Linked DNA regions of Homo sapiens: region 2 is linked to region 1. A link means that fine-mapping ties the variant in region 1 to the plasma level of a protein whose gene starts in the linked region. Region 1 holds a variant in brackets. A gene starts in the other region. All regions are shown on their reverse strands.

Region 1 (9,596 bases):
TCCTGTTTTGGGGGGCTGTCTTGGGAATTCAGCTGTAAAGAGAAGTGGGGGCAGGAAGTTGGGAGTCAGTCCCTCATTAGGCTCCCTGGTCCTCAGCCTTGGTGAGGTGGCTCCGTTGGGGCCGTGCCCAGGGAAGCCAGGTCACAAGAACAGAATGCGGCTCAGCATGTGACCTCAAAGGCAGGCTGGTGTGCCAGGAACAAGTGGGGCCTGGGAATCGGCTTCCTGTAACCCAGTTGCCACCCCCCGCATGGCTGGCCTACCTCCTCGCTGGTGTCACTGGAGGCGGATCTCACCAGGGCTGGCCTGGGGCTCTCCAAGGCTGCCTCTGCCAGGGCTTCACGACTGTTCTCCTGGCAGAGAGGAGAGGGTTGTGGGTTGTCAGAGGATGGGGTGAGGGGGTCCTGAGGAGGGAGGGAGCTCCTGGGGAAGTAGGGGCCTCAGACTGAGAAGAGGTAGCACTGATGCCCTGGCCACCCACCCCTGGTTCCCACCTCCTGAGCCTGCTGGGGCTCCTTTTTACATTCCTTTGGGGATCAGAGGGCAGGCTGGTTCTACTGCTCAGGCTGGAGGGATGGGATGGGAACAGACCATCATGGGATTAGCTGAACCGCTCCCTCTCCCTGGGCCACTCCAATGTGGCTTTTAGGTACTGGCTTGCCTTTTGGGCCAGTGACCAGGGAGGGGCTTCTTGGAATGTGGGGACACATGGGGGCATGGGGAGCCCATGTGGTGCTCCCTGAATCTCATGTGGTCCACCTGACTGTTTGCCAGGATTTGACCCCAGGAATCCTGAAACCCTAACCCTGAAGCAGCAAAGGAGGGCCTTGAAAGAAGAAGGTGGATGGAAAGTTCTAGATCCAAAGATGAGGTGAAAGAAGGTTGAGGGCTGGGTCCAAGGGCCCTCCCCCTTGCCAAGTACCCTGGCAGGAGCTCCTAGGGAAGGGGAACCTTTAAGCAGACCCTGCAGAGTTCCTGCTCTGTGGCCTGACTGAGTCGGCCTGTCCCAGAGCGAAGGCTTTGGCTGGGGCGTCAGCTTGGCACCCAGCCCCTTCCTGGGTTCCTCCATGGCTTCAGCTGGCGCCCAGCCCCACCATCTCTTCCCCGGGCCTCACCCCCTTTCCCTTCTGCCCAGGGAAGGGGGGAGGAGGGGCTTTGTTCTTCCAACCCAGACTAGAAGTAGCAGGGGCCCGGCTGCCCGTGGCCAGACACTGAAGCTCTGTTCTTGGGGGGAAGAATGGCCCCTTCTGTATGGTGGGGAGTTGGAGGCGGGGGCTTGTCACCCAGGATGGCGGGCTGCAGAGGGGCCCAGCCAGCCCGCTCCCTCCTGACAGCTTTGGCCCCAGGCAGAGGCCAAGAGGGTTCTGGCAGTTCTATAGCTTGGAGCTGAAGAAGGAGCTGGAACTGGGGACCCTGGGGTTTTGGCCTTAGTCAGATGGCTATCCTACCAACCACAGCACCTTCTGATCTGTCTCATGCACCCCAAGGATTGAAATCCAAAGAGACAGGGGACCCGCCCTTACCTTCTGTATCTCCCCATTGGTGAAGGGCACAGGCAGGGGACCTAGGCAAAGGACAGAGCAGAGGTGAGTCCAGAACGGGGATGGAATAGAGCGTGGAGAGGAGGTAGGAGTTGGGTTTGGGCAGATTATTAGATCTTGTTCCCTGGGTCAACATCTCAAACTTTTTTGACTACCACCCACCATGAATACATTTGCCTTATTTATTTAAAAAAAATTTTTTTTTTATAGAGATGGGGCCTTGCCATGTCATGCAGGATGGTCTCAAACTCCTAGCCCCAAGCAATCCTTCCACCTTGGCCTCCCAAAGTGTTGGGATTACAGGTGTGAGCAAATGTCTGGCCTACGTTTGCCATTTTGATGACTCAGCACACACAAAGATTTTGTGTGATAAAAGTTTCACAAAGCAACACCCTTACTACAGTGTTCTTTGATATTTTTAATTTCATTTCATTAAAAAAAACAAAAAAATGTCTGGGCCAGGCATAGTGGCTCACACCAGTAATCCCAGCACTTTGGGAGGCCGAGGCACCTGGATCACTTGAGGTTAGGAGTTTGAGACCAGCCTGGCCAACATGGTGAAACCCCGTCTCTACTAAAAAAGACAAAAAGAAAATTAGCTGGGCATGGTGGCACACGCCTGTAATCCTAGCTACTTGGGAGGCTGAGGTGGGAAAATTGTTTGAACCCAGAAGGTGGAGGTTGCAGTGAGCCGAGATCACGCCACTACACTCCAGCCTGGGCAACACAGCAAGACTCTGGCAAAACAAAACAAAACAAAACAAAACAAAAAAAACAAACCAAAAAACCTGCTGGTCTCTATCTACTAAATTGATCTTATGAGGCACTGATGGGTCACAAGGTGTTTAAAAAATGTATTGTCTCAGATGGGGATGAAATTCGAGGATGGCTGCCTAATTCCTACCTGGGAATTCCTACCTGGGAACTCCTACGTGGGAAGCTTGTTAAAGTACAGATTCCTGGACCTTGGCAGCACAGATTCTGGTTTAGTGGGCAGGCCTAAGAATCAACATTTTCCAAACGCTTCCCAGGTGATGATGATGACACCAAAATTGGAACCACACCCCAGACTATAGTTAGTACCTGCCTCAACTGAAAGAGAAAATAGTCTGGGCTCGGTGGCTCATGACTGGGACCCCAGCACTTTGGGAGACTGTGGCAGGCGGATCACCTGAGGTCAGGAGTTCAAGACCAGCCTGGCCAACATGGCGAAACCCTATCCCTACTAAAAATACAAAAATTAGCCGGGCATGGTGGCAGGCGCCTGTAATCCCAGCTACTCAGGAGGCTGAGGCAGGAGAATTGCTTGAACCCAGGAGGTGGAGGTTGCAGTGAGCCAAGATTGTGCCATTGCACTCTAGCCTGGGTGACAGAGACTGTGTCCGGAAAAAAAAAAAAAAAGGCCAGGCGCGGTGGCTCACACTTGTAATCGCAGTACTTTGGGAGGCCGAGGTGGGCGGATCACAAGGTCAAGAGATCGAGACCATCCTGGCCAACATAGTGAAACCCCATCTCTACTAAAAATATAAAAATTTGCTGGGCGTGGTGGCGCATGGCTGTAGTCCCGGCTACTCAGGAGACTGAGGCAGAAGAATCACTTGAATCTAGGGGCAGATGTTGCTGTGAGCCGAGATCGCACCACTGCACTCCAGCCTGGGTGACAGAGCAGGACTCCATCTCAAAAAAAAGAAAAAGAAAAAGAAAAAAAGAGAAAATAATCCCAACTCCTATTTGCCAATCAGGAAATGAGGGGGGACGAGAAGGCTCAAGGGGTGTGTCCTGGGTATCCCCTCCCCCAGCCAGTGGGAAACCTGGAGGGGTCAGAGGGAGAGAAGACAGGTCTGGGGTCACCTTCACTGGGCTCACTCAGGGTAGGGGTCCCACATGGCTTCAGGGGTGGCT[G/C]TTCCATCTCCAGGGACTGGTCAGTGTAGGGCTTCTTCTGAACTCTTAGCTTAAAATTCCTGGTTATCTTTTCCCTGTCCCCAGTCCAGGACACAGCCAGAGATACCTGACTCTCATCTTCTCCTCCCTTTTGACACCCACAGCCTTCCCCGGGCAAGGACAGGCTGCTGGGACACAGGGTCACTCACTGTCCCCTCCCCATCAGCTCACAGTGGTCAGGGTGAAACCCTGGCAGCCGGAGAGGGGGGCATTCCTCCCTATGGAAAGGGTGAGGATGCCATCCTGGAGGGACTGCGGGGAGGGGACTGTCCCCAGGCCTCTCCCTCTTCAGGTCCTTTGGCCAGAGGCTGCAGCCCCTCTAGCCCGAGAGACAGGCAGAAGAGGGAGGAATGTCTGAGGGGGCCAATTACCTGCAGGGTGAAGGGGTGGGGGAAGCAGGGGACAGTATCCCAGGAGCTGAGTGGAATCCAGATTCCAGCTGTGTCTTCCTCGTATCAGATCCCTAGGAGGAAGGCTGGGGCTTCTCTGGGCCTTAGTCTCCCCCTCAGTGGAGAAGGGGATTATCTGAGTTACCTGGTTTCCATGAACTTGGGAGATAAGGGTAAGGCGGTACCCCACCTCCCATGCCCAGAGCCAGCTAGGGACTTCCAGGGGCCATCCCCTCTTCTAGGAGCCTCAGGCCTTGGATTGCGCCAGAAGGGGACAGGGCCTCCCCAGTGGGCCCTTGCAGCTGGCGATGGGAGTCGCAGGACCTTTGTGTGAATCTCCTTTTACACATACAACCTTGAGTCTCCAGGAGGCCCCACCCACTGCAAAGTCCCAAGAGGTTCCACCCTCAGTATGGCCCAGTGAGCACCCCTGCCCGCTCCAGGGAGCCATCTTCCCAGGGAGAAAGTCCAGACCAAGGAGCAGAGCATGCTTAACCCCTCCCTGCCCCGGTGCAGCAGCCCTGCCCTGTTTGGCTCGGGCCTGGGCAGGGGGAGGCGCCAGGCTTGGCAGGGTGATGGTGGGGGATGGGGAGGGCAGGGGCCCAGGGATTGAAGGGGGACCCACTACTCTCTAGAGCCAGCAAGGCTGAGTTTCCAAGACAACCTGAGAGGAGGGAGGGGGAGGCACCGGCCCCCGTCACTGGACTCTGATCTGACCAAGCAAAGGCTGGAGGCCTCCCCGGAGTTAACCCTTTCCTCACATTGACACTGCCCTGAAAGTCTGCTGGTGGGGACAGGACTGGGGGCTTGGGCCTCCTTTGGGGCTGCAGCTTTGGCCGGGAATAAGAAGATCTGTCCATCTCTCTCACCGACCTCATGCCAGCTGACCCCATCACAAGCCGTCCTCAGAAACCCACTGCCACTCCCTACACTAGGCCCCCGCTCCCCCAGCCCACACCTCTGGGCCTCCCATGAAGGAGGAGGAGGGAGCACCCATGCCGGGAAGCTGCCCACCCCTCGCCTGGGACCCAGCAGTCTTAGCCCTGGCTCACATCCCTGACTTGGGGGGCTCCAGCCCCAGGACGGCCAGTGGCCCCACCTGGCTTACCATTCAGGTGCTCCTGAGATGGGATCACTCTGCATTTCTTGAAGAACTCGTCAGTTTCCCTGTCCACCACCAGCAGCTTGGTCTCGTCCCCGCCAGCCCTGATGGCGGACACCACGTCCCCATGCTGCTTCCCCTCCATGCAGACCCCGTTCACCTGCAGGGCAGGGTCGGGGAGGCGTTACGGACACAGGCCTTGGTTCTGGGGCAGGTAAGTGGAGGGGGGTTGGGGGCAGGGGTGACCACCTTGGTTCTCAGCCAGTTTGCAGTTCACAACCTGGGGATACTGACCCCCGCCATTTCTGCAGAGTCCTGAACTAGGCTGGGGGTCCTCCCATTGACAGTCAGCTGGGGAGGCAGGATACATGGGAAGGGCCAACGAAAATATCCAGACGAGACTAAACAAACACAGCTGGGAGAGATGGGATGGGAGCGAGCTGGGAGGCCGGGGTGGGGCCCAGCCTGGGTAAGGACTTGCTGTCCGACTTCCTTCTCTGGGCCTTGGTTTTCTCACGTGTAAAATGAGAAGTCTTGGGAGAGCTGATCTCTAGCTCTAAGGTTCTAAGACTGTGATTCTGGGACCTGCCTGAGCATTTGGTTCACGTTTCCTCTCCCAGGAGCACAGCACCAGAGCCCTGAATGCACGAGTCTAAAAGCCTAACTCGGGGCCGGGTGAGGTGGCTCACGCCTGGAATCCCAGCACTTTGGGAGGCCGAGGCGGGCAGATCACTTGAGGTCAGGAGTTTGAGACCAGCCTGGCCAACATGGTGAAATCCTGTCTCTACTAAAAATGCAAACATTAGCCAGGCGTGGTGGTGGGCACCTGTAATCCCAGCTACTCAGGAGGCTGAGGCAGGAGAATCGCTTGAACCCAGGAGGCGGAGGTTGCAGTGAGCTGGGATTGTGCCACTGCACTCCCCCAGCCTGGGCAACAAAGCGAGACTCCATTTAAAAAAAAAAAAACTAAATAAATAAAGGCCTAACTCAGGAGAGGGGTTTTGTTACTGCCACCCCACTCTGTGTGCCTGGCAGCAGGGAAGCTCTGGAGATGGCCCCAGACATCTCCCTGATCGATGGGTGAATCACAGGCTGCCCACTGTATCTGCTTGGCAAGGAGGAGTCCAGGGGAGTGGAGGTAAGAGAAGAGTCCATCAGTCAGTCCATCTGTCCTTCCGTCTATCCATCCACCACCCTTCCCTCCCTCCCTCCCATCCACCCATCCATCCAGCAGCTCCAGGTTGGCTATGCCCGTGGGCTAATCAAGCCCATGATGGTATGATGGCTGCCCCAGGTGCTGCTGATCTGCAGGGGGTGGGGGCAGTCAGATAGGAAGAGAGCGAGAAGCATCACCTCCACAATGCGATCCTGGGCCCGGAGCCCTGAAGCCTCAGCCGGGGAGTCTGGGTCCACTGACCGGATGAACTGGCCTGGCTTGGACTTGTCGCTGTGCAGGTTGAAGCCATAGCCACTGGGGCCCTTCTTCATGGTACAGAGCCGAGGCCGAAGCTCGCGCTGCAGGGACAGGGGAGGGTCCATGGCTATTCCACAGTGCCCCAGGTTCTGCCTTCCCTGTCCTCTGCCTGTCCCCATCTCCCCAACCAAGGAAGGTTTGGGAGGATGCAAATTTGCCTAGATCCCTACACAGCAATTTGAGAGGGTTCTGGCCCAGGACTCAAAAGACTTGTGTGGATACCCAGCACCGCAGCTAACTGCTTAGGTGATGTGGATAAAACACTGCTCTGTCCAAGCCTCAGTTTCCTCTTCTGCCAAATGAGGGGTAGGACCAGGTTAGCTCTCACATGCCTGTCCCTTCTGACAGTCTAAGGTGAATCACATGCTGTGTTGATCGGGCCTCTATCCCTCCCCATTGGTGGCTCAGTCTGGCCCTCCTGGAGAGGGGGCAGAGTGTGGCACCCGTCAGCCTGGCTGGGGACCTGGGGCATATGACTGAGGACCCCCAGCCCCTTTGTACCCCGTTCTCTGCAGCAGGGGAGGAAGAGGCAGGTGTTTACTGAAAGCTGGTCAGTGTGTTTACAGTAAAGCCTTCCTCCATATACTCGAACTCTCTCTCACCCCCACCAAGCCGAATGGCCCAGCCAAAAGGGAGCCAGAAGGAGCAGATAACCAAAAACTTATTGTTCAGCACAGCAAGGGGACCTGGACAAGACGGGGCCATCCTCAGGCGTTCCAGGACCTCCTCCCCCGACACCGCTGCCCAAGGGCAGAGGTGGCAACGGAAGCACAGAGACCCCAGAAACAGAGGAGCCTGAATGGGGAGGGGACTGGGAAAAGCAGGGCTGGGCTAAAGGGAGCCCAGTGTGGCTGTGGCCTGGAGGGTGTGACCTACTAAAAGGGCACACGCAGATTTCGAGTGCTTGGACTCAGCTGAAAACAGTTTCCAACATGCTTGGTCCAAAGTAAGCAGCTCAGCTTAGAAGCTGCAGGCCTGGACACACAGTATGATGGAGGGAATATGGGTGTAGGCAGCCGAAGCCTGTGCCCAAGGACTACGCCTGAGTCCCTGTCCCTCTCCCCCTCCTCCAGGCCTGGTGCAGGGCCACTGGCTGCTGTCCAGCCTGCTGGCCCTGTGTTATCACTCAGCACATCAGACAATGAGCAGTGGATAGTCAAGGCTCCCAGCCAGGTTCCAGCTCCCCTGTTTAGGAGCTGTGTGACCTGGGGCAGGTCATTTATGGATCATTCTGACTGCCATCTGCCTCCCAGGGTTGCTGAGGCCCAGTGAGGTCATTGACTTAAACACTTTCTAACTGTAAAAAATCCCTGTGCACACCCAGACTTTCCCATTGTTGTGAATACTAATGAATAGTCATAGGAAGCTGGGAGTGAGATTCTGGTGGGGTGGGGGTGTGTGTGCCAGGCTGCTCTGAAACCCAAATCCCCAGCTGGGAGTGGAGAGGGCCGAGAGGGGTGGGAAGGCGCGCCCAGGAGGGCTTATGGGCCTCTGTCCCAACTTGCCAGCCCCAGGAGGCCGCCACCATCTGCAGGAGACTCAATCCCCAGCCTTTCGATCTCTGGGGGTGGCTAGAGGATGACTTTGCATTCCTTTAAAGGCTTGGGCAGGTCTTTCTTGCCTGGGTTTTCATACCCAAATCCAGGCTCGAGGACCCCTCACCCCAACAACAAAGACGGTTAAGTGAGTGGTAAAAACGTGAGTGGCTCACAAAGGCTCAGGAACCCTGAATGAAGCTCCTCTTGCCTTGTTCTCCCTGGCCCACCCCCTGCCTCACTGCAGGGCCCACTCCCAGCTAGTTCGGCTGTCACCTGCCCCAGGCTCACCCCCCGGCACTCCCACAGCCCTGTGGGATCTTGTTCCGGGAGTAAGTGAGGCTCTTCTCCCCTAGAGCTAATCCCTCCACAAAGCTCCCAGCCAGGCCCTCCCCCGGGCCGCCTAGGTGAGCAGAAACAAGTCTGACCAGTCGCCGTCACCAGGACAGGCGCAGCTTTCTGCTTCAGCCAGACACCCTGAGAAAGTGGGGAGGGTGAAATCTCAGGACAGGCAGGGGGCAGCTCTAGTGACCTCCTCCAACCTCCCTCCACCGTCCCTGCGCTCCCAAAAACCTTCCCATAACAACCTGACTGGGGCTTGTCAGCTGTTTTTGAGATGGGGAAACTGAGGCTCAGAGATGTGGAGCCCACTGCCTGACATCACACAGCCAGAACTCCAACCCTGGTCTCTGACTTGGAACCTGTCCTCCTTCCACCACACTGCAGGGTGCTCCTTAAGGATCCAAGTCCAGAATGGGGCAACCCATTGGGAGGTGAGGACCCAACAGGAGTCAGGCAGCAGAGGGCAGACAGGGGCTCTCTCCAGGGCATCGGCTGCAGCCTCTGCTGGAGGTAGGCTGGGAGCTGAAGAAACCACAACCTACCACAGCCTTCCTTCCGGGCGCTCAGGGCCTCTCGCAGCTGGAGCTGCAGCCTGAGCTGGGGGATGAAGCCTGGTGTGGGTGACAGGGCAGGGGCATGGCTGGACTGGGGGCAGGTGGCTCTGGGCGCCCCCCCCGGCTGGCAGGGCAGGGCTGTGCTAGCTGCCTTTGGGATGCCCATCCTCTGGCCCTGGTCTCTGTGCTGTGGGCTTCCCTTACTGATCTTCAGCCCAGTGCCCCTCGCCTAGTGACATATGGTGCCAAAGCTCCAGGGCCTGCTTTGAGCCTTGCTCCGCTCTGCCAGCACCAAGTCGTGCAGTTCAAGGGGAAACAGGGTACCCAGCCTGAGGGGCTCAGGTGCCCTCTGTTTCCTTCCCCTGCACTGGGACCTGCTCCACTGTTCTGTCTAGATGTGGCTCTGTGGCGGCTCCAGGACCTGAGGGGGTGGCTGGACAAGGAGATGGGAAGCCCCCGGTAGACCCCACCAGCATTTAGACAGCTCCGATGCACCTGCAGAGCCTCCTTCCCAAGTCCCTAGAGACTTCCTCCCCTCACATGGGAAGGGGGGTTCCCACTCTTCAAGGGAGACCAGCCTTGTTCCTCCTCACCCCTCCCTAGCAGGAGCCTCCCAGCTGTCTCCAGGAGGTGTCAGTGCCAGTTGCTGAGTCAGCCCATCAAGCCAGCCCATCCCAGCCTGGGTGGAGGCTGGGGCTGGCAGGGGAGTCCCTTGGGG
Region 2 (10,462 bases), not on the chromosome of region 1:
GAATCAACACACAGGATGTTGAGCATACTTTCCCTGATGATTCAATGTTGCTGTTCCTGAGGATGCAGACGCCCTTGGGGACTATTGAGCCACTTACTCTTTTTTGGCTCCACATCAAGTGACCCACCACTGCCCTACTTTATGGGTTTATGTGTCTTGATTTTGCATCATATCATCAGCATGCCTGCCTCCAGTGATCCTGTGTGTCCTTTGGAATCCGAGGCACTCTGTGAACCTTGATGCATGAATGTAGTGATAGTAACTACTGGTTCAGAGTCTTTTCATCCTGATTGCTGGGCTCTTACCAGGTTTCACACGTCTGGGGGCTCCCCGCTGGTTAGCAAGGCAGCCACTAAGAACTCTCTGAATAGTCATTTTCCTTTCGGAAACTGCTTAAAGATGACTCGGGAGGACTTTTAAATGGAGAAATGTTCGTATGCTGAGATCCTGGCTGGTGACAGAAGGATGGAAGAAGTGATGCCTGAAGGTATATTCTAAATGGTTGTTGTGTCCCTGTAGTCAAAAGGTGTGTGGGCATGGTTTCTTATTTTAAACAGTTTTCTTAAATCAATAAACATTGGGTTATGAATCTCAGATATAGGATCTTTTTCAACTTTTAATCTGGACGACTTTGAATTAAAGAAAAAAAAGAACAACTGTTCCATTATAATTCATGTAAAATCAAGTCCAGGGCCATGAGGGGCCGAGATAAAGGGAACAACTAGAAGTAAGTGGAGGATATAATTTCTCAGAAAATTCTTATATTTTCTGTGCCTGGAAATGGTTTCAATACACATCATAAAAATGATATAAAACTCAATCAACAGAAGAACTTTTTGTTTCTTTATTTTCAATATTTGTCTTATTAATATTTTTCTTATTTTATAATGCAATTACAACAATTTAGGAGACAAAACAATATAAACAAAAGAATGTTAAATAGTTTTTTTTAAAAAATAGCTTGTTGCTTGCAAGAAAGTCCATATAATCTTATTCCCCCCCAAATATAATTTTATACTTTGCACTAAACCAAAATAGCTTATGGAAAATTAGTATTAAATAGCTAAACACAGAAAACCTACAGCTATAAATAACATAAAATACAGTTTAACTTTAATGTGATGCTTAAACAAAGCAAACTATGATGCAATATGAATCAACTTCATTAATTGGACAAGTCCAGTGAGGCACAAATTAGATAAGCACTAAACCCTCCATGATGTGCAAGTGAAACCTCCAACCCCAGCAAGGTTCTTTCTGTTCTTGGGCTATGTCCAATTCCATTCCAGAAAAGCCACAGTTTTTACATGTTCTTGACTTTTTTACTGTAAAATGAAAAAGAAGAAAAGTGTAAGTAATGACAAGGTGACTGCATGGTGGGAATGACTTTGGTACCTAAAGGTTGCTTCACCTGCCCTTAATCTCAACTCAGTATGTCAAGCAGCTCAGAGTTCAGATGAGGAAATTGAGGTTTAGAGAGGATGGCCCTTGCCCAACCTAACTCAGCTCATTAATGACAGAAACAGGCTATGGACACTTATCTTGTGTCTCCAAGTTCAGTATCTATGGCATGCTGGTGTTAGGTGCCTTCTGTCCATTGATAAAGTGTTACTGTCTATTATTGTCAACGTAAATCAGAACCATTGATCTCTGTTTAACTAATGTTCATTTTTCAGTTTTTAACAAACAACCAAATGCCAGATTGCCTTTAAATTATATAAATAGTAGGCATCTTTGCAACAAGAATCAGGCAGCTAGTAACTATCAAATGCATAGAGAAATCTAATACATCATGTAAGAAATCACTAAATTAAAATAATAATAACGATGATGATCTGTAAGTGGAAAAATGCATTCTTTGTTTTTGTGGTCCAACTCAAATTTTCCCTTTAAAAATTCCACAATAGTTAAACTAAAGAATCCCAGAAAACCTACGGCCCACCCCTTTGCACACTCCTCTTTCCTCAAACATTTGCAAAGGCTAAATGTCAGTGTAACATACCTGAGGAGACGCACAATATATTTCACCCAAGTCTGTTTTGGATTTGCGCACACAGACAACTTTTTCTTTGTGTGAAAGCTGAAAAATCAGAAAATTTGATTTGTGTTTAATGAGCTTTTCAATGGGTTTTTCATAGAACATACAATGGAAATTTTATATTCCAGTTGATTACACACTAAACATTTCAGTTGATGAGGTAAAATAAAATGCACAAAAAATGCTTCTGATGAAGATTAATGCAAAATCAAAGTGATTCTCTCTTTCTCTGCAATGTAACAAATAATAGTACAATGGCAGGAAGATAAAGTCCCAGAATTGTCATATAATTTTGCTATTGGTGGTTACATAGAATATGTATGTATCTGATCAATAACTTGTATAATTCCAAAATATAATATCCTATATAAATCAAGAAAATTATATGTGATAGTATAATTAGTCTGAGATTTTACTTTTGGTCTCAAACACTTTCTGGTAGAAGATGCTCATTTCGAAATGTGTATCTTCCCTATTTTCCTAATATATCACTTTAATAGCCTTAGAAAGTGATTTTTGCCCTATACTAGTTCCGTTTGACCAAAAAAAATTTTTAAAAAAGGTTTTGCCTTATTCCAGTCCTGTTTAAAGTGAACTTTAAAGTAGATATGTACTAAGACAAAGCTATCTTTGCCACATCATTTCTTTCTCTTTAAAATAAGATCTTATGTTCAAAACATCAGTAATTTCTGAATGAAACTCTAAAAAGGCAAACATTTTTAAAACTGAAGTTTCTAGGTATTCCTGATACAACTGAATTAAAATCAATTAATAACTTACATGATAGCATTGATGTCACAGCCTTCATTGGCCAGCTGCCGTGTGAAGCCCACAATAAATTTAGGATGAAGAATACGGTCTGTGTATCCAAGACAGCAGTCAAAGTTGCTTGCTGCTAAAAAAAAAAAAAAGTGAAAGGTATTGGATCCACATGAATAAACTTATCCTGTGATTGGTATTATAAAACTACCTTAAGTTGTGAAAAATCTAGTGAATCTCATGTATATGACGAATAAACCACTTAGAGGAGGAGTTTCAATGTCTTGGAAACCTTTGTAAGGTCGTTGAGAACCAATCTAACATAGTTTACAGTTCTTTGAAAAAACAGTTTGTGTGCCGAGAAGTTTTGGTTCAATAATAGAATTGAGAAACACAGGACTTCTCATAAGTGGGATATCTTCAGTAAGAAATACAAATTGACAATATTTCATTTCAGTTCACTATAATCATTCAAGAATATGAGCAGCCCCTTCCCTACTGCTTGAAGGAACCCTTATGTAGATAAACTTCCAAAAGCAGAAAATGAATAAATTGGCAGATTTTAATCTATTATCTGGCTACTAAGTATTGAGAAATAGAGCTACAAAGGGAAATATGATTTATAGGAGTGAAAACACTTTGAAATTGTCCTATTAATTAATAGGAATGTTTAATTTTGTTCATAAAAGTTCAACATGTGGTTGGGCATGGTGGCTCATGCCTGTAATCCCAGCACTTTGGGAGGCCAAGGAGGAAGGATTGCTTGCCTCCAGGAGTTCGAGACCAGCCTGGGCAACACAGTGAAACCCTGTCTCTACAAAAAAAAAAAAAATGTAAAAAAATTAGCCAGGTGAGTGGCACACGGCCGTGGTCCCTGTTATTCAAGAGGCTGAGACTGGAGGTTCACTTGACTCCAGGAGGTTGAGGCTGTAGTGAGCTGTAATCATGCCACTGCACTCTGGCCTGGGTGATGAAGTTAGACCCTGCCTCAGAAAAAAAAAAAAATTCAATGTGCATTTTTAGGAATGCACCTGTTGCTAAAAGTGTTGTGTGACTATTGAGCAATAAAGCAATACTTGGACATTCCCGAGTCAGATTACAACATGCTGTAAGGTAAGGGATTAATGTTATTTTAAAGTTGGCAAGCAATGTCCCCCATGCCTTGTGGGGATGTTGATGTCAGGTATTATAATCTACTTCTAAAGGATGAGTTTTGAACTTTACCAAAACTATTAAGTTGGGAGGTACGAAAGTTGGGGACACAGGAGGATTCTCTACATTTCAAAATGGCCCCATCTACTGGTAACATTACACACTTTATATCACTCCCAGAAACATCACTTTGGCTTTATCCTGAAGTTTAGGGATCTCTAAGAGCCCACCACTCCCCAAATCTGCTGAGATTGACAGCAGAGAGGAAAGCCTGATCCGCAGCAGTAACTCTTCTCTCCTCCACTCCACCATGGGCAGACAACTTCCATCACTACCTCTTGTATACTTCCTAACAGTTTTCCATCCCTTAGGGACCCCCAGTTGAGCTCAAGGCTAAAAGGAAAATGAAAATAGTCTTTCTTCTGTGCTAGCGGAAAGAGCGACACTTACCTTCTGATTCGCCGCAGAGGTGGAGTAGCAGCACTGACATCAAAGCAGCCAGGAGCAAACTCTTGGTACAGCACATGGTTTTTAGCTCAAAGAACAGATCTGCTCAGTGTTGAGTACCCAGTTCTTTGGGAGTGCTGTTATATTCTGACAGCAGCCTGGGATGGCCCTATTTATAGCAAATATTGGGAATGTACACAGAAGGCGTGTTGCCACATGGGGTTTTCCCCATTGATCAACTGGCCCCATCATGTCATCATAAAAAAAACCCGCAAGGAAAACTTCCTGCTTTTTCCTCATATTGGGAAGGTGCGAAGGTCAGGGTGGGGGACAGGAAGTTGAGAAGGGGAGAATCCTGTTAAATTCTTTGTATTTGCAAAGAGCAAAAGCAGCTCAGCCCTGTGACCCAGAAAAGACTTTCATCCAGTTTTAACTTAATCATTTTTGTGTCTGAAAATAGAGGATTAACAGCGATACAAAGGTCAGCCCCACACAGGAACATTCCAGAACTCCTATTGTTACACCCTATTTGCTTTCCAGAACCAGTCAAGGAGGAGGGGGAGGAGGAGCAGGTGGGATGCCAGGCATACTCTGCTACACATTTACCATCACATGGTTGAGGTTCAGCTGTCATGAAGAAGACCCTGAGTTGCTAGACTAACATTCAGAGCAGGTACTATAACAGTGCTACAGTACTGTCCGCAGTTAGAGTGGAAAATATCAGCCTTTAAGTAAGGCTCAAACCTCAGCTTCACCTTGATTTAATGTCAACTCTTCTAAGAATCTTATACATTCACATGGCTTTAATCAATATTGCAGTTCAGAAAATAATCCTTACCTACCTTTAACTCTCCATGATGATGTACTAATATAACTCAATATAGAGCCTCAGAATTGTTGAGGAAAGAAAACCTATCAGCAGTAGCTAGTCAGCACAGCAAATGTCAAATAACAGTACTAATGATGATAATGTAATATGAATCCCTAACCTAAGGCAGTATAAGAACTCTCCACTAGACCCAAATAGGTTGAAAGTAAAAGGATCAAAAGAAAGGTATACCAAACAGTAAACAAAAGAGAACTGGAGTTGGTGATGCCTATATCAGACAAAATAGATTTTTTTTTAATGTTACCGGAAATAAAAAGGGACTTTCATGGTAACACAAAATTAACCCATTGGGAAGATGTAAAACCTATAACCATATATATACCTAACAGTAGCACCCCAAACTACAGAAAGCAAAAACTGACAGAATTGAAGGGAAGAATAGGAAATTTTATTTTATTTTATTATTATAATTTCTTTTGAGACAGAATTTTGCTCTTGTTGCCCAGGCTGGAGTGCAGTGGCACCATCTCGGCTCACTACAACCTCCGCCTCCTGGGTTCAAGCGATTCGCCTGCCTCAGCCTCCTGAGTAGCTGGGACTACAGGCACGTGCCACCACGCCCAGCGAATTTTTGTATTTTTAGTAGAGACGTGGTTTCACCATGTTGCCCAGGCTGAACTCCTGACCTCATTACAGGCATGAGCCACCGTGCCCAGCAGAATAGGAAATTTAACAATAAAAGTTGACAGCTTTGGTACCACATTTTCACTAATTAATAAAATTTAGGCAGAAGATCCACAAGAAAATAGAAGACTTGAACAACACTATAAGCCAAATAGACTTAGCAGGCATCGAAGGACTACTCTATCCAACATCAACAGAATAGTTGCACATGGAATGTTCTCTAGGATAAAGCATATGGTAGGTTATGGAACAAGTCTCAGTAAATGTAAACCGACTGAAATCACATAAAGTATACATTCAAACCACAATGGAATTAAATCAGAAATCAGTAACAGACAGAAAGGAAACCACATATTCCTAAATAACCAATGTGTCTGGCCAGGAGTGGTGGCTCATGCCTGTAATCCTAGCATTTTGGGAGGCCGAGGTGGGTGGACTGCCTGAGGTCAGGAGTTCGAGACCAGACTGGCCAACATAGTGAAACCCTGTCTCTACTAAAAATACAAATATTAGCCGGGTGTGGTAGTCCATGCCTGTAATCCCAGCTACTTGGGAGGCTGAGGCAGGAGAATCGCATGAGCCCAGGAAGCAGAAGTTACGGCGAGCCGAGATCACGCTACTGCCCTCTAACCTGGCCAACAGAGACTCCATCTCAAAGGAAAAAACAACAACAACAACAACAATGTGTCAAAAGAAAAGTCACTAGAGAAAGTAGAAAACAACTTTGAAATGTAAAAAAAAGTCCACAACATATCAAAACTTATAGGATGTAGCAAAAGCAGTCCTCAGAAGGAAACTTATAGCTGTAAACACTCACATTAAAAAAAAAAAAAAAGAAACATCTCAAAACAATAACCCAAACTTCTACCTTAAGAAACTAGAGAAAAGCAGAGCAAGCTAAACCCAAAGCATGCAGAAGGAGGGAAATGAAGATTAGAGCAGGAATAAATAAAACAGAGAATGCAAAACAATAGAGGAAATCAACGAATGCGAAAGTTAGTTCTTTGAGAAGATCAACAAAACTAACAAGCCTTGACTAGACCAAACCAAACAAAGGAAAGGGAGGTAAAAAAAAAAAAAAAAAAAAAAAAACTGTATGCAAATAAAATTACTATGCCGACAGCACAGTAAAAAGATCATACACCATAACCAAGTGGGATTTATTCCAGGAAATGTAATACAACAAATCAATCAAATAAAAAATAAAAATGATTTGAAAAGCAACTGACAAAATCCAACACGTTGTCATGACAAAAACACTCAACTAACTAGGAATAGTTGAGAACTTTCTCAACCTGATAAAAGTCATCTATGACCACCTCACAGCTGATACGAATAGAGATGAAAGACACAAATTATTGACCCTGATTCAAGAAGAAAATAGAAAATTTGGGATGGGCGTGGTGGCTCATGCCTGTAATCCCAGCACTTTGGGAGGCCAAGGCGGAAGGAGCACAAGGTCAGGAGATCGAGACCATCCTGGCTAACATGGTGAAACCCTGTCTCTACTAAAAATGCAAAAAATTAGCCTGGTGTGGTAGCGGGCACCTGTGATCCCAGCTACTAGGGAGGCTGAGGCAGGAGAATGGCGTGAACCCGGGAGGTAGAGGTTGCAGTGAACCAAGATCGTGTCATTGTACTCCAGCCTGGGCGACACAGCAAGACTCCATCTCAAAAAAAAAATAGAAAATTTGAATAGAGCTATAACAAGTAAAGATATCAAATTGATAACCAAATATTTTTCACAAATAAAACCTCAGGACCAGATTAATTCACTGGTTAATTCTACAAAACATTCAAATAAGAATTAATACCAGTTCTTCACAAACTTTTTCAAAGTATAGAAGAGAAGGGAACCCTCTTCAACTTCTTCTATGAGGACAGTATTATCCTGACACCAAAATAAGATAAACACATCACAAGAAAAGAAAACAACAGACCAATGTCCTTTCCGAATACAAACACAAAAACAAAACAACATAGTAAAAGGACCATACACCATAACAAGTGGGATTTATTCCAGGAAATGTAATACTACAAATTAATTGAATAAAAATAAAAACTATATGAAAAGTAACTAACAAAATCCAGCACCTTCTCATGACAAAACACTCAACAAACTAGGAATAGCAGAGAACATCTCAACCTGATAAAGGTCATCTATGACTGCCTCATAGCTGATAGCACACTCAATGTTGAAAGACTTACTGCCTTTTCCCTGAGATCAAGGACAAGACAAGGATGTTCAGTCTCACCGCTTCTATTCAACACAATTTCTTTTCTTTTCCTCTCTCTCTCTCTCTTTTTTGAGATGGAGTTTCACTCTTGTTGCCCGGGCTGGAGTGCAATGGCGCAATCTCGGCTCACTGCAACCTCTGCCTCCCAGGTTCAGCCAATTCTCCTGCCTCAGCCTCCCAAGTAGTTGGAACTACAATCATGCACCATCACACCTTGCTAATTTTGTATTTTTAGTAGAGACAGGGTGTCGCCATGTTGGCCAGTCTGGTCTTGAACTCCTGACCTCAGGTGCTCCGCCCACCTCAGACTCCTAAAGTGTTGAGATTACAGGTGTGAGCCACCATGCCCGGCCTATTTAACACAATTTCTATTAAAATCCTGGCTGGCTTCTTTGTAGAAATGGAAAAGCCAATACTCAAATTCATGTGAAATTGCAAGGGACCTTGAATTGATAAAACAATCCCAAAAAGGAAGAATAAAGTTGGAAGACTCACACTTTCTGATTTCAAAATTTACTAAAAAATCACACTAAATCAAGACATGTGAAAATTGCATGAGTGTTCACATCAATGGCATACAATTGAGAAATAAGCCCCCATGTCTATGGTCAACTGATTTTGTGTTAGGGTGGCAAGACCATTCAATGGGGGAAGAACAGTCTTTTCAACAAATAGTGCTGGAACTACTGGATATTCACAGCAAAAGAATAAAGTTAGACCATTACTTCACACTATATATAAAAATTAATTCAAAATGGATCATAGATCTCAATGTAAGAGTTAAAAACATGAAATTCTTAGAAGAAAACATAGGAGAAAATCTTCATGACCTTGGGTTGGGCAATGACTTGTTAGATACAACACCAAAAGCTCAAACAATAAAATTAAAAATTAACGAACTGGACCAAATCAAAACTAAACATTTTTATGCTTCAAAGGACACTATAAAGAATGTGAAAAGAAAACGCATAGAAAGGAAAGGAAAAATTTGCAAGTCATATATATGATAAGGGACATTTACTTGTATAGAGAATATATAAAGAACTCTTACAACTCAATAAGAAGAAGATGAGTGACCCAATTAAAAAATGAGGAAAACAGCTGAATAGACATTTCTCCTAAGAAGATAAATAAATGTCCAACAAGCACATAAAAAGATGCTCAAAATTTTTAGTAAGTAGGAAAATGCAAATCAAAACCACCATGACATACCACTTCACATCCACTAGGATAGCTATAACCAAAAAGACAAATAATAAGTGTTGGCAATGATGTAGAGAAATTGGAATCCTTATATGTTGTTGATGGAAATAAAAAAATGGTGCAGTCATTTTGGAAGACACTTTGACAATTCCTCAAATAGTTAATTAGAGAGTTACCATGTGACCCAGCAATTCTACTCCCAGGTTTACACCCAACAGAAATGAAAATATATGTCCACACAAAAATGTGTACGTGAATGTTTGTAGCAGCATTATTCATAATAGCCAAAAAAGTAGAAGCAGCCCAAAAGTTATAAACTGATATATAAATAAATTAAACCTGGCAAATCAATACAACGAAATATTATTCAGCAATAAGATACTGATAGAAACTACAAAATGAAGCTGGGCATGGTGGCTCACACCTGTAATCCCAGCACTTTGGGAGGCCAAGGAAGACGGATCACTTGAGGTCAGGAGTTTGAGACCAGCCTGGCCAACATGACAGAACCCCATCTCTACTAAAAATACAAAAATTAGCCAGGAGTGGTGGCTTGCACCTGTAATCTCAGCTACTTGGGAAGCTGAGGCAGGAGAATTGCTTGAACCTGGGAGGTGAAGGTTGCAGTGAGCCAAGATCGTGCCACTGTACTCCAGCCTGGGTGACAGAGTGGGACTCTTTCTCCAAAAGAAAAAAGAAACTACAAAACGGATGAACCTTGAAAACACTATGCTAAGTGGAAAAGCCAAGCACAAAAGACCACATATTGTCTGATTCCATTTACATAAAATGTTCAGAAATGGTGAATCTATGGAGAGGAGAAGTAGAATAGTGACTGCCTAGGGCTGGGTTGTGGTGTCCAGGGAAGGGAAGGGGATTGGGGAGTGACTGCTAAGGGGTATGTGGTTTGTTTTTTATTTTTTATTTATAAATACATATGGTTGATGGTTGCACAACCCTATAAATATACTAAAAACACACTGAATTGTTTACATAAAAAGGGTCATTTTATGGTAGGTCAATTATATCTCAATAAAGCTGATAACAAAACAAAACAAAAAAGGAACTCTCCATGTACCTACATCTTAACACGCACCCCAGCCCATGGATGCT

Direction of the effects. Positions count from the first base shown, and alleles are read on the strand shown. Strength reflects both the effect of a copy and how common the allele is.
As copies of C replace G in region 1, the plasma level of the protein whose gene starts at base 4,545 in region 2 goes up (weak association).

What was found. A credible set is the group of variants that fine-mapping cannot tell apart. PIP is the chance, under the fine-mapping model, that this variant and not a neighbour inherited with it causes the effect. Protein levels are from antibody-based Olink assays in UK Biobank. Linkage for the fine-mapping came from a reference panel and not from the study's own genotypes, which makes the PIPs less certain.
Region 2: CCL20 starts here. The variant in region 1 is the best candidate, but not a certain one, in a credible set for the plasma level of the CCL20 protein (UK Biobank, PIP 0.82).

Annotation. Positions count from the first base shown.
Region 1 is chr17:74,758,904-74,768,499 of GRCh38, reverse strand. It overlaps NHERF1 (NHERF family PDZ scaffold protein 1), which reads right to left. Exons shown (of 6, transcript NM_004252.5): 2 at 6,327-6,488; 3 at 4,980-5,133; 4 at 1,524-1,564; 5 at 264-353; 6 at 1-32. Among named protein-coding and RNA genes, the nearest start is that of NAT9, 13 kb to the left of the region's middle. RefSeq lists enhancers at 4,761-5,512, 8,165-8,912, 8,913-9,596. The variant G/C (reference allele first, on the strand shown) is at 3,444.
Region 2 is chr2:227,807,925-227,818,386 of GRCh38, reverse strand. CCL20 (C-C motif chemokine ligand 20) reads right to left here and starts at 4,545. Exons shown (of 4, transcript NM_004591.3): 1 at 4,400-4,545; 2 at 2,819-2,933; 3 at 2,003-2,080; 4 at 831-1,325. The coding sequence starts at 4,475. The coding sequence ends at 1,304. RefSeq lists an enhancer at 1-608.